Regions from separate parts of the Homo sapiens genome. Here region 1 is linked to region 2. The links come from fine-mapping of genetic effects on gene expression. A gene starts in region 2. The other region holds a variant in brackets. All regions are shown on one strand. Distances are between the middles of the regions.

Region 1 (5,370 bases), 140 kb after region 2:
CGCACCTTACTCAGTAAAGGGAATCTATGGCCCCATAACTTCTGTGCTTTCATGTAAATCTTCAAAATTAAAAATAATCTCAAAGTTCCCTACACCTTCCCCTAATATTTTATAAGAAGATTCATCATGCTCTGAAATGAGTCTGCAGCACTACTAGGTGGACTTATGAAAATATCTGGAAATAAGCTCTGGAGGCTAAGGCAGGAGGATCACTTGACGCCACGAGTATGAGACCAGCCCGAGCCATAGGGAGATCCCATTTCTATGAAAAATAAAAAAAAAAAAATTAGCTGGGCATGATGGTGTGTGCCTGTAGTCCCAGCTACTGAGGAGGCTGAACAGGGAGAATCGCTTGAGCCCAGGAGTTCCAGGCTACAGTGAGCTAATATGGCACCACTGCATTCCAGCCTGCGTGACGTAGCAAGACCTTGTCTCTAAAAAAGAAAGGAAATAAACTAGGGATCATTTAATTGACCACTTAATGTATTTTCAGCTTCTGGAATGATCCTTAGCAGGATGAATGCTTATCTCTGGGAGAGGCTCATACAAGGAAGAATTTTATGCTATAAACACCGGTTCTCAACCAGGGGTACATCGCAAACCACCAAGTCTAGCTCTGCACGTGAAGCCTGTGTAGTTGCACACTGAAAAGGTCTCTAGGTAATTCTGGTATGCACTCCTGGTTGAGAAACACTAGCTAGACCTGACGGGAACTAAGCCTTTCCACATCTGTGAATAAGAGAATGAGAAAGAAATCTGTGCTGAAGATCTTTATGCTACAAAGACAAGTATCTTGTCACCCAAAGATGGCTTTCTAAGCCTATCAAAGGCCCTCTGTGGAGAAAAAACAAAACATGCATTGCAAATGACTGGCATCTCTGTGTCTGTTAGGTCCCCTGAGAGGGCAAGAGAGAACTAACGTTTGTGACAGGGAAAGGGAGGAAGTGGAATTGTGTGGGGGCTGCAGCCTGGCAGAGCCTCTGCCAGCCCAGTGGACTCTCAGGAGCAAAAACTGCCTGTTCAGAGACCCAGTGTTGGGTGGGAATGGCTAGACCCCTGCATCCCCAACTAGCTTAATGTTAGGCCAAGGCACCCTAAAGAGAGCCTGAGCACCCCTCCATACATAGGTGGAGTGGAAGGAGTTGGTGGCTGGAAGCTGTCAGCTGACAGCATCCTGACAACTAGGCAATGAATCTGTTCTTAAAAGAGAAGCACAGCTCCATGTCTGCTATACTCTCCAAAGACTAGAAAATCAGTTCCTCTGGGCTGTTCAGAGTTTAGCTCTGTTTTGACTACAATGCCAAGGTGTGATCCTTTGGTGGAATTTACTGCCTTAAGGTAGAGGAATGAAGGGAGGACAATGGAAGAAATATGCAGGAAAACTTGGTTCATTTGATTTCCTTCTGTTTAGGGCATGTGCTAGATGGCAGGACATGGAAGAATAGGGCACTAAAATTTGAGGGATCATAACAACTTCTCATGTCGAAAGTGAAGCCCAGACCAGGCACAGTGGCTCATGCCTGTAATCCAGCACTTTGGGAGGGGGATAGCGGGAGGATAGCTTGAGACCAGTCTATATAAGCCTGGGCAACATGGTGAGACCCCATCTCTAATAAAAATAAAATTTTAGCCAGGCATGGCAGTGCACCTGCAGTCACAGTTACTCTGGTGGTTGAGGCAGAATTGCTTGAGCCCAGGAGTTAGAGGCTGCAGTGGGCTATAATCGTGCCATTGCACTCCAGCCTAGGCAACAGAGCAAGATGCTATGGAAGGAAAGAAAGAGAGAGAGAGAGGAAGGAAGGGGAGAGGGAGGGAGGGAGGGAGGAAGGAAGGGGAGAGGGAGGGAGGGAAGAAGGAAGGAAGAAAGGAAGGAAGGAGGGAGGGAGGAAGGGAAAGAGAGGAAAAAAGAGAGAGAAAAAAAGAAAAGAAGGAGGGAAGGAAAGAAAAGAAAGAGAGAGAAAGGTAAGAAGGAAGGAAGAAGGAAGGAAGGAAAGAAAGAAGAAAGCAAGCAAGAAAGGGAGGGAGAGAGGAAGGAAGGAAGGAGGGAGGAAGGGAAAGAGGAAAAAAGAGAGAGAAAAAAGGAGGGAAGGAAAGAAAAAGAGAAAGGAAAGAAGGAAGGAAGAAGGAAGGAAGGAAAGAAAGAGAGAAAGAAGAAAGCAAGCAAGAAGGGAGGGAGGGAGAGAGGAAGGAAGGAAGGGAGGGAGGGAGGGAAAACAATGGAGAGAGGGAGGGAAGAGAAAGACAAAGGAGAGGAGGAGAGGTGAGGAGAGGAGAGAAAGAAGAAGAAAGAGAGAGGAGCCCAGAGAGGTTGTGTGTCATCAGAGATCACCCAGAGATCGCAGGGCTGAGGTGGAGCCCCAGGGCTCCTGACAGCAACACCCCTCTCCTGACACAGAATGGGCATTGTTACATCAGTCTCCTTCACCCCATACTCTACACAATAAAGAAAATCTGTGGCTCCAGAACTTTTATGTTCTTGCTTAAATCTTCCAAACTGAAAACGATCCTGAGGTTCCCTACACCATACCCCGCCCCACCACATCCTTCATCTAGACACATCCTGGGTCTAGAACGTATCAGGAGACAGAGGTGTAGAACCACAGCCAGCTTCCCTAAACTTCCACTAATCTCCGGCTTGCTTTTGGTTATAATGTTGTGCAGATATAAATTGACAAAGTCATGAGAAGCCTCTCTTCTAACTCTGCAGTTTGTCATCCTGACACCAACAGAAAATCAGGACATCATTAATTCTCTACACTTATTGATTTGGAACCTCCATTGTAAGGCCGGCTGCTTTACTCTCCCTCCTCCTCCTCCTCCTCCTCCTTTTCCTCCTCCTCCTCCTCCTCCTCCTCCTCCTTTTCCTCCTCCTTCTCCTGTCCCTCTTCCCCCATCTCCCCGTTCTCCTCCTGTTTCCCCTCCCCCTCCTCATAGTTTTCAGGGTCGGAGTCCTAGGCCACTCTATTGCAACAGCTACCAAAGAGAAAGGGGCTGAATCTGTGTGCATGTGAGGCCAC[A/G]ACCTCTAGACCCCAGTGACTTAGGGGCCTCCCTGCCTCCCCTCTAGCTCTTCGCCAGTCATTGCCTGAACTCGGCTTTCCTGGACCTTAGGGGATAAATAGTGTGGTCCAGCACTGCCCTGGGTGAGCTGAGTCATGCCCTTGGCAGGGTCGAGGAGCTCCCGTGAGGAGACCAATCGCCTAGCGTGAGTCTTCTTCCGGGATTGCTCGCCCTCTGCCCCCTAGGTGCCGGGCGCCGCCCGTCCCCACCTCCATCAGAACTCGGGTCATCTGCGGAGCCTTGGCTGCGGCCCGGTACCTGGGTGTGACTCCGCCACTAACATTTTCCCAGCAGGAAGCAGCAAGCTCAGCACAGAAATAAAACTGTCCTGGTGAGTCGCTCACAGCCTGTCCCAGTAACTGTTCCGGAGCGTCAGCCTGACGCAGCACCCCTGAAGGACCACGCCGTGCGGGCTGCGAGCCTCGCCCTTAACCATGCCCAGCAGGACCAGAGCTGCCAGCACAAATGAAGGTCCTGGCCATTGAACAACTTCTGAGCCTGCACTTTAAGAAGGCGCTCTTGTTTTGAATACGTAGTCTGTCCTGTTCTTTCAAAGTAAGTGCTTTTATCAAGGGCCTGGACTGTCTTTTAAACATATTTTTTTCTCACTTGTACATTAAAGGGAAATGTATTTCTGTCTAGAAAAGGAGACCGGGAGAGGAATGAGACTGTGCGGTATTCAGGCTTGGTTTAAACTAGGGCATGCACACTGCATAGCTATTTTCTTCAGGCAGCATGTGGCCAAAAAACATGCGTGTGTAGCTGACTGTTTTGAGCTTTGTTTATTTTAAGTACTGTATACTGAGGGATTTTGTTCAAGCAAAGGAGTACCAGCTTTATATGCAGCCACAGATGCCTCTCTTGCTTGGTAGTGCTAGATTTAGAGCTCAAAATTTTCCTTTTCAGCAAGAACTAGAAGTTCCCTAGTAGTATTTTTTCCCCTCATGCCTGTTTGCACTGTGCAGAATTCTTAGAGAACACGGCTTTGCAAATGTTCTGCGGCAGTCTCAGGATAGCACGGTATGTCAGCAGATATGGGTCCCGGGCCTGTTTGCTTAGCTATGCTTTCTTAATGCAGGTTCTTGCTTTACACGATTTCAGACAATAACTCAGTATTTTCATGATCACAGCTGAATATACGCCACGGATGGATGTGTATTTTTCTTCCTCTCTTGCAGATTTTTTTTAACCAAAACACACACACACACACGCGCACACACACATACACACACACACAGAAATACAAAATAAAACTGGATTTGGTAGCATTGTATTTGTCTTAAAATTCTGGATAGGGATTATGCTGGGTCACTCTGGTCCACAGCAGCCTCATGAACTACTCTGAATTCGATGACAGACCCTGAAATGAGGGGTCTGTGACACCAACTCAGCCTGGCTTGGATGTTGTAGATGGGAGCATGGACCAGTCATTCCTTTTCAACTGGGCCACTATTTATTGAGCGCCTACTGTGTACCAGATATAGTCAAAAAATGAGAGATACAGCTGTTAGCAAACAGGTCTCTGGCCTCCTGGAGGTTTTATTCTAGCTGTGAGAAGGAGTGTCAGAAAATGAAGAACCCACACAAGTGTAGAACACAATGTAAAGCCCTAGGAAGTGCTAAGAAGAGAGGACAGGGGAAGGAAGGTGGAGAAGAGAGCGCCAGGAACGTCCTGTGTGTACCTGCCCTGCCTTGTACTTCCGCCTCTGGGTACAATCTAAAAACCCATGCTGTCTCTCTGAACTTGCGTAAAAAAATAGCCCAGAGGTCACCAACTCATGCTCCCTTGCAAGTTTATTTTATTTGGCTGCCGGTGCTTTTTGATTTTTTAGGTTTGATTTTATTAATGATTTTTTAAATAAAAACAGGCAATTTTATGTAAAAATTCAGAATCTTAGCTTCTCTTGAAAAAAATCAAAAGCTCCTACAGTCCTGGGCCCACCCTCTGCTTAGCCACAGAGCTGAGTGAGGAGGGCCCTGTTAGGCCGGAGGGCATATGACCTTCAGATCCTCACAACTCCTACTTAGCTCACCTCCTCTGAAGGCAGCTGTGTTTTAGCCTATTTTGTTGCTGGCCCTACAATCATTCGTTACTTCTCCCAGGGCAGCAATGCTTCTGGTGTCAGGGACCCCACCCCCCTTACTGGATGGGCCCTGTGGATGCTTCCTCCTCTGGCTTTCTCTCCCAGTCATTTTATTGAGGTTTGCCTCTCCTTGAGGGCTGCAAGGGGTGGTGAAGGTGCCAAGCTATCAGAGTCCCAGGCCAAGTCACAGAAGCTGTCTGTCGAAGAATGAGCCCTGTCCTTCTGCAAT
Region 2 (5,370 bases):
ATTTTGAGCACTTTACTACAAATGATAGACGGATGGAAGAGAAGCACAAAAGTAGATGCTCACCATCATTAGTCATTAGGAAAGTCCAAATGACAATCTTGTATTATTGGCTACAATTTGCTCCTGTGCAGAGACTATGTGAGATAGCTTCAACAGCTCGGTCTTTTTCCTCCCCTAGTTATAGTGCGTTCACTTCCGACATTATGTTGAAGGCCTATCCCCAAAGATAAAGCCCCGGATTGGTTCAAGTTATCGTTTTCTCAGCATTGTAGGGACCATTTGTGAATGGTGCTCTGTTTGCTAATCTTTATCTGCATGTGGCCTGAGATGAGCAGGTGAGCAGGCATGTCACCCCCTCCCTGGGTCCTCCTGGGCCTCGAGTTACAAAAGGTGGAAGATTCGGTTGCATGGGCATTATGATAATACAGGTGTTTGTATATGCATCTCAAAACCTTCAACATTCACTTTACGCCATTATATAAGGTTAGTATTAGGAGGGACGCACTGGGACTGTGACTTATTATTTATAACAGTATTTTGAGTACATTAGAAACTTAATAAATATGACTACTAGGATGGCTTTAAGATTCATGCCATGTCTTTTCCTTTCTCCACCAAATACTCTTCTCTTTAAGGTTAGGGCAGCTGACATCTGTAAACTCCAGATTCAAGGTCTTCTGCTTGAAACAAGACTTAAGGAAATTACAGAACTAACATAGCCTTTTTGCTTTCTTCTGTAAAATAGGATCATGCTACCCAGACTACAGGGGGACTGTTAGGAATAACAAACAAAACAGGCCAGGCATGGTGGTTCACGTCTGTAATCCTAGCACTTTGGGGGGCTGAGGCAGGAGGATTGCTTGAGCTCAGGAGTTCAAGACCAGCCTGGGCAACTTGGCAAAACCCCATCTCCACTAAAAATACAAAAAACAAATTAGCCAGGCATGGTGGCACACACCTGTACTCCCAGGTACTCGGGAGGCTGAGGGGGGAGAGTTGCTTGAGCCTGGGAGGCGGAGGTTGCAGTGAATGGAGATTGCACCACTATACTCCACCCTGGGCATTGGAGTGAGACCCCTCACAAAAAATAAAAATAATAAAAATAAAAGGGGACAATACACAGGAGTCTGTATATGCTGCCATTGCACCTGACATGTAGAAGCTGCTCTACAAGGCTTCTTTATCTACTCAGGATGTGAAACTTTGTGTACTGCTATTTTAATATCTTTTGTCTTCAGTATAAAAAAAGCAACTCCTCAGGGGAGGATAAAGCACACCACAAGGATTGCTACATCAATAACCTCTATGAGAGATGTGGACTTGTCAAGTCATCTCCATGATGGATAGAACAGAGAGCAAACATCTCTGAGCCAAGTTGATGCTGATTCACTGAAAATAATGAGGTGAACATCCTGGCAATTAGTTGAGGTAAAAAAATTATCCTTTATTGTGGTTTGGTGACATTGTGCTAATTTAGAAACCATGGATGCTGGTTTATGTGAAAGTTTTTGTTTTCTTTCAAGTCTCTGGTTGGAAACATCACATGGTTGGTTGCTGTTGCTGTTTACTGCCACAGCCTGTTCAAGTCTATTCTCGGAGAGTTTTCTTCATATAGGAGTTGGTACTAATCCAAGTGTAAAATCCGGAGAAATGTGTGCACAGCTTTCTGTGTGGATTCTTAGCTAAGGTTTGAAAATGGTCTGCTTTGAGCTCATCTGACCAGAAGATCTGACTGCTGTCAGGCAAAGAAAAGGGTCTGTCAGGAAAGGACTGGGCACCCCAAGTGGAATACGGAAAGAGAAGGGCTGTGCCTCCTTGCAGAAAAGAGCACAGCTGGTGAAGCTGCCTTCACATCGTCCAAAGTTTCCAGTTCTGGAAAGTTCCAGTTGTAAGAGTGAAATCAATGCCAAGAGGCAGGTCAGTGGAATGAGAGGCACTGAGAAACTAGCCACTGTGGGTGGAAGGGGAAGGAGATTTGGTTTTGACAAGTCCGTACTCAGGTCTTCAGTAAGGAGTTCTGAAGTCAGGGTGAAGCCTTTGTTTATTCTAGAGGAGGCGGAGTTTGGGGTCTGGGAAAGAAGATAACTTCTCAGAAAGTGAAAAAAAGCTCATGTAGAGGATGCTGGGCAAAATAATGGGAAGGAATAAATCAGCATTGTAGAGAATGTGGTTGGATCATAAAATCCCAGGCTATAGAGATTATGTGCTCAAAGCCTCTGCATTTTATGTGAACACACACAAACCAAATGTCGACCAGATGCACAAAAATGTGCATACATGGAGCAGCCAACCACCAATAGTAACCAGCATTTCACTTCTCTTTGCATCTCAGTTGGCTGTACCTGGAAGGGTCTAGACTTTGCCTCCTTCTCGTTCTAGCATTCTGACACTGTGTGCAGTGTAATAGAAAACGCGGTTTGGGAGCTAGGTTTGCCCAACAATAGATATTCTGGGGTGATTTTCATCCTTTGCATTTGTCATTACGATGTTTTGTGTGCTTGTGCAAATACAGGACGGTTCCTGAAATGTGTCTCTGAGCGTTCTTAACTGTGTGTAAGGTAAGCGAGGAAAGTGTCTAAGACAGAGGCCAAGAACACCTGTCACAGGGTACCCGCCTAGAGTGTCTGTACCGCATCCTTTCTGCTACACTGTTTGCACACACACAAAAGGGCCGAGGAGCCAGGGTTGGTGTTGGATATGCCCAGTACGCGTGCTGGGTGTTGGAAGGATGGGGCCGGCGGTAACAAGAATCGATATATATTTACCGCGGGGGCGGGGGTGGGGGTGCGCGGAGGCTGCAGGGCGGGGCAGCGCTAATGAGAGCAAGCCCGGCTTGTGGTTGGTTCTGGAGTCTGGTACCCACAGAGGAGCAGGCAGGGAGGGAGGGGATGCAAGCGGGAGGATAAAGCGATGAAGTGTGCTGCGTTACCGCGCATCAGGCGCTGTTGTTGGAGCCGGAACACCGTGCGACTCTGACCGAACCGGCCCCCTCCTCGCGCACACACTCGCCGAGCCGCGCGCGCCCCTCCGCCGTGACAGTGGCCGTGGCCTCCGCTCTCTCGGGGCACCCGGCAGCCAGAGCGCAGCGAGAGCGGGCGGTCGCCAGGGTCCCCTCCCCAGCCAGTCCCAGGCGCCCGGTGCACTATGCGGGGCACGTGCGCCCCCCAGCTCTAATCTGCGCGCTGACAGGAGCATGATCTGTGCCCAGGCCAGGGCTGCCAAGGTAAGCGGGCGTAGCGCGGGGACACTGTCTGCCGCCCCTTCCCCCCCGCCCTTCTCTGGGCGGCTTCCCCGCCGCACGCGAGGCCCCGGCAGCGCCCTCCCTTCTCGGGGCCGAGATCCACCCTCCTCCCCACCCTCTCGCTTCTCCCGCGAGGTTCAATTGTCAGCCTGGGTCGCGCCGCCGCCCGGTCCGGGCCGGCATCCCCGGGTGGCGACCCCGGCTTGGGTACTGCAGGCGCACCCGGCCCTCCTGCGGGGTACGGAGAGAAACAAAGAAGCCCCCAAGCGGGTTCGCAGCGCCTCCCCCGCCCCTCAGCGCCCTCCCAGTGGCGAGGAGGTGTCAGGGGAGGGGGCGGAGAGACCTACGTAATCCCCCTTCCCAGCCCACACCCACCCCTTGTGAACCAAAGCTCTGGATTTGCGCTTCGCCTTGGGCTCGCTTTTGAACAATTGTGTCCCATGCAATGCCCGTGGTTAGCCCAGAGAGCGCCCAGAGCCTCCGCACGGGCTCGCCGGTGCTCGCTCGAGGGGCGCGTGGCCAGGTCCGGCCCTTGCTCCCATGGACGGGTGCAGGAGGGGAGGAGGCGCTGTGTGGGTGCTCCCCCAGCGCCTCCCTGTTACCGGCCGGCTGCGCCGCTCAGCCGGGCCTGCCACCTGAGTTTTAGCGGGAGCAGTCATGTCGCCTACCGTATTGCGACTTGCAGACAGGCAGGGAGGGAGCTGCCGGGGCGGGGAGGGGGGGGGAATGCGTCCGGTCCATTTTTGGCTGGAGGTGCGCTTCCTGCTACCCCCACGTTCCCGGGCGGTGACAATGCAGCAAAATCCGAGGGCTCAAACAATGTGGCCCCTCCATCCCCGGCTCCAGGGCATTCTGATTGCTCTGCCGCTTTGACGTCCCGGCCACTTGGCTGATTTTCAGAGCCATGATGCGCGGTGTCTCTGTCTTGCACACAGAGGCTGGGCACCATAACTTCTTCCCTGCCGAATTTCAGCGCGTAGGGGGAGCTGGCAGGGACACAGGCTGCAGAGATGCCCGGCTTCCTGTGGTTCCGGGCACAGCGCGCCTCAGTCTGCATTGGGCTGACACCAGAGAGCATGTGGGGATTTTCCTAGTTGCCGAAGAAGATATTATTTGACGTTGCTGTAGTTTTGTGCTTACTTCTCTTGGAATCTGCAGTGGTGCAATTCTCCCCTTGTTTTCCCCCCTTCTCTTTGAAAAGATATCAATGCTATGTTCAGCAGAAACGGATACAGCAAGAGCAGCATAGTTCAAAAATTGAGGGAGGCATCTTCTCTCTTTTCCTGGGATTTAAACGCGATTTAGGAGGGCAGATGCCCTACCCGAAAAGGCCAACCGTTAAAGACCCCGGCAGTGTTGTGGTCCAAGGCGTCTCAAAGCAGGTGGCCAGATCTGCGTTTCTCATCAGCAGACTCACTCCGGCTGTGGCTATTACGGTAATTCATTCTAGATTGGGGATTCATTTAAAAATGTGTGTTTTCCACTAAGAAGGGATTAGAGTCCACATGCCCACCCTGGTATGAATGTGTGTGCCTGTTTGGTAGAGAGATAGATTGTGGTAGAATTCCCTGTTGGTAGAATTCCCTGTTGCCTGTTCCCTCCGCTTGCTGCTTCCTCTGGAATGTGGCATTGGAAAAACAAAGCACTATTTTAATTCCTAGACCTCCAGGCAAATTGGCCGTTCTAGTGTTTTATTTAATAATCCACGTTCTGACTAATTCCACACTATAATCCCAGTCTAGTGCAGTTGGCTGCTTTGTGGAATGACAGTTCTCTTTTTTTTTGGAGTAGTTTTTTCATGAAGGCAAATTGCCTAAGTTTGTTTAGATTGTGACATTATTGACTTGATAGGGAGGTCACATCCGGAGCTGGAACAGCCCATCAATGTATCAATACAGAGGGACTGCAGCTCTGTTATTTGTGTATATAGCATCATTTGACTTGATTCCTTTTACACTCTGGCTTTTAAAGATGGATGTATTACAAGATCACTTTGAGCTTTACCTTCTATTATGCTTCCATCTGATATGATTGTTAACAAAAGAAATATTAAAAGGCCAGATGTGATATGGAAAGACAAGCCTGAGTCTCATTCCTCATGGTAAAGGAAGTTGGACTGGCTGGTTTCT

Alleles and levels. Positions count from the first base shown, and alleles are read on the strand shown. Sizes are in standard deviations (SD) of each study's normalised expression.
With allele G in place of A in region 1, the expression in fibroblasts of the gene that starts at base 2,933 in region 2 is higher (small effect, 0.26 SD a copy in GTEx).

The links.
Region 1: its variant is fine-mapped to the expression of HECW1 in fibroblasts (GTEx, PIP 0.94).

What each region holds. Positions count from the first base shown.
Region 1 is chr7:43,245,868-43,251,237 of GRCh38, forward strand. All of the region lies in intron 3 of HECW1 (HECT, C2 and WW domain containing E3 ubiquitin protein ligase 1), which reads left to right. LOC124901619 (a long non-coding RNA gene) reads right to left here and starts at 3,431. Exons shown (of 2, transcript XR_007060295.1): 1 at 3,316-3,431. The variant A/G (reference allele first, on the strand shown) is at 3,018.
Region 2 is chr7:43,109,715-43,115,084 of GRCh38, forward strand. HECW1 (HECT, C2 and WW domain containing E3 ubiquitin protein ligase 1) reads left to right here and starts at 2,933. Exons shown (of 30, transcript NM_015052.5): 1 at 2,933-3,223; 2 at 4,443-4,677.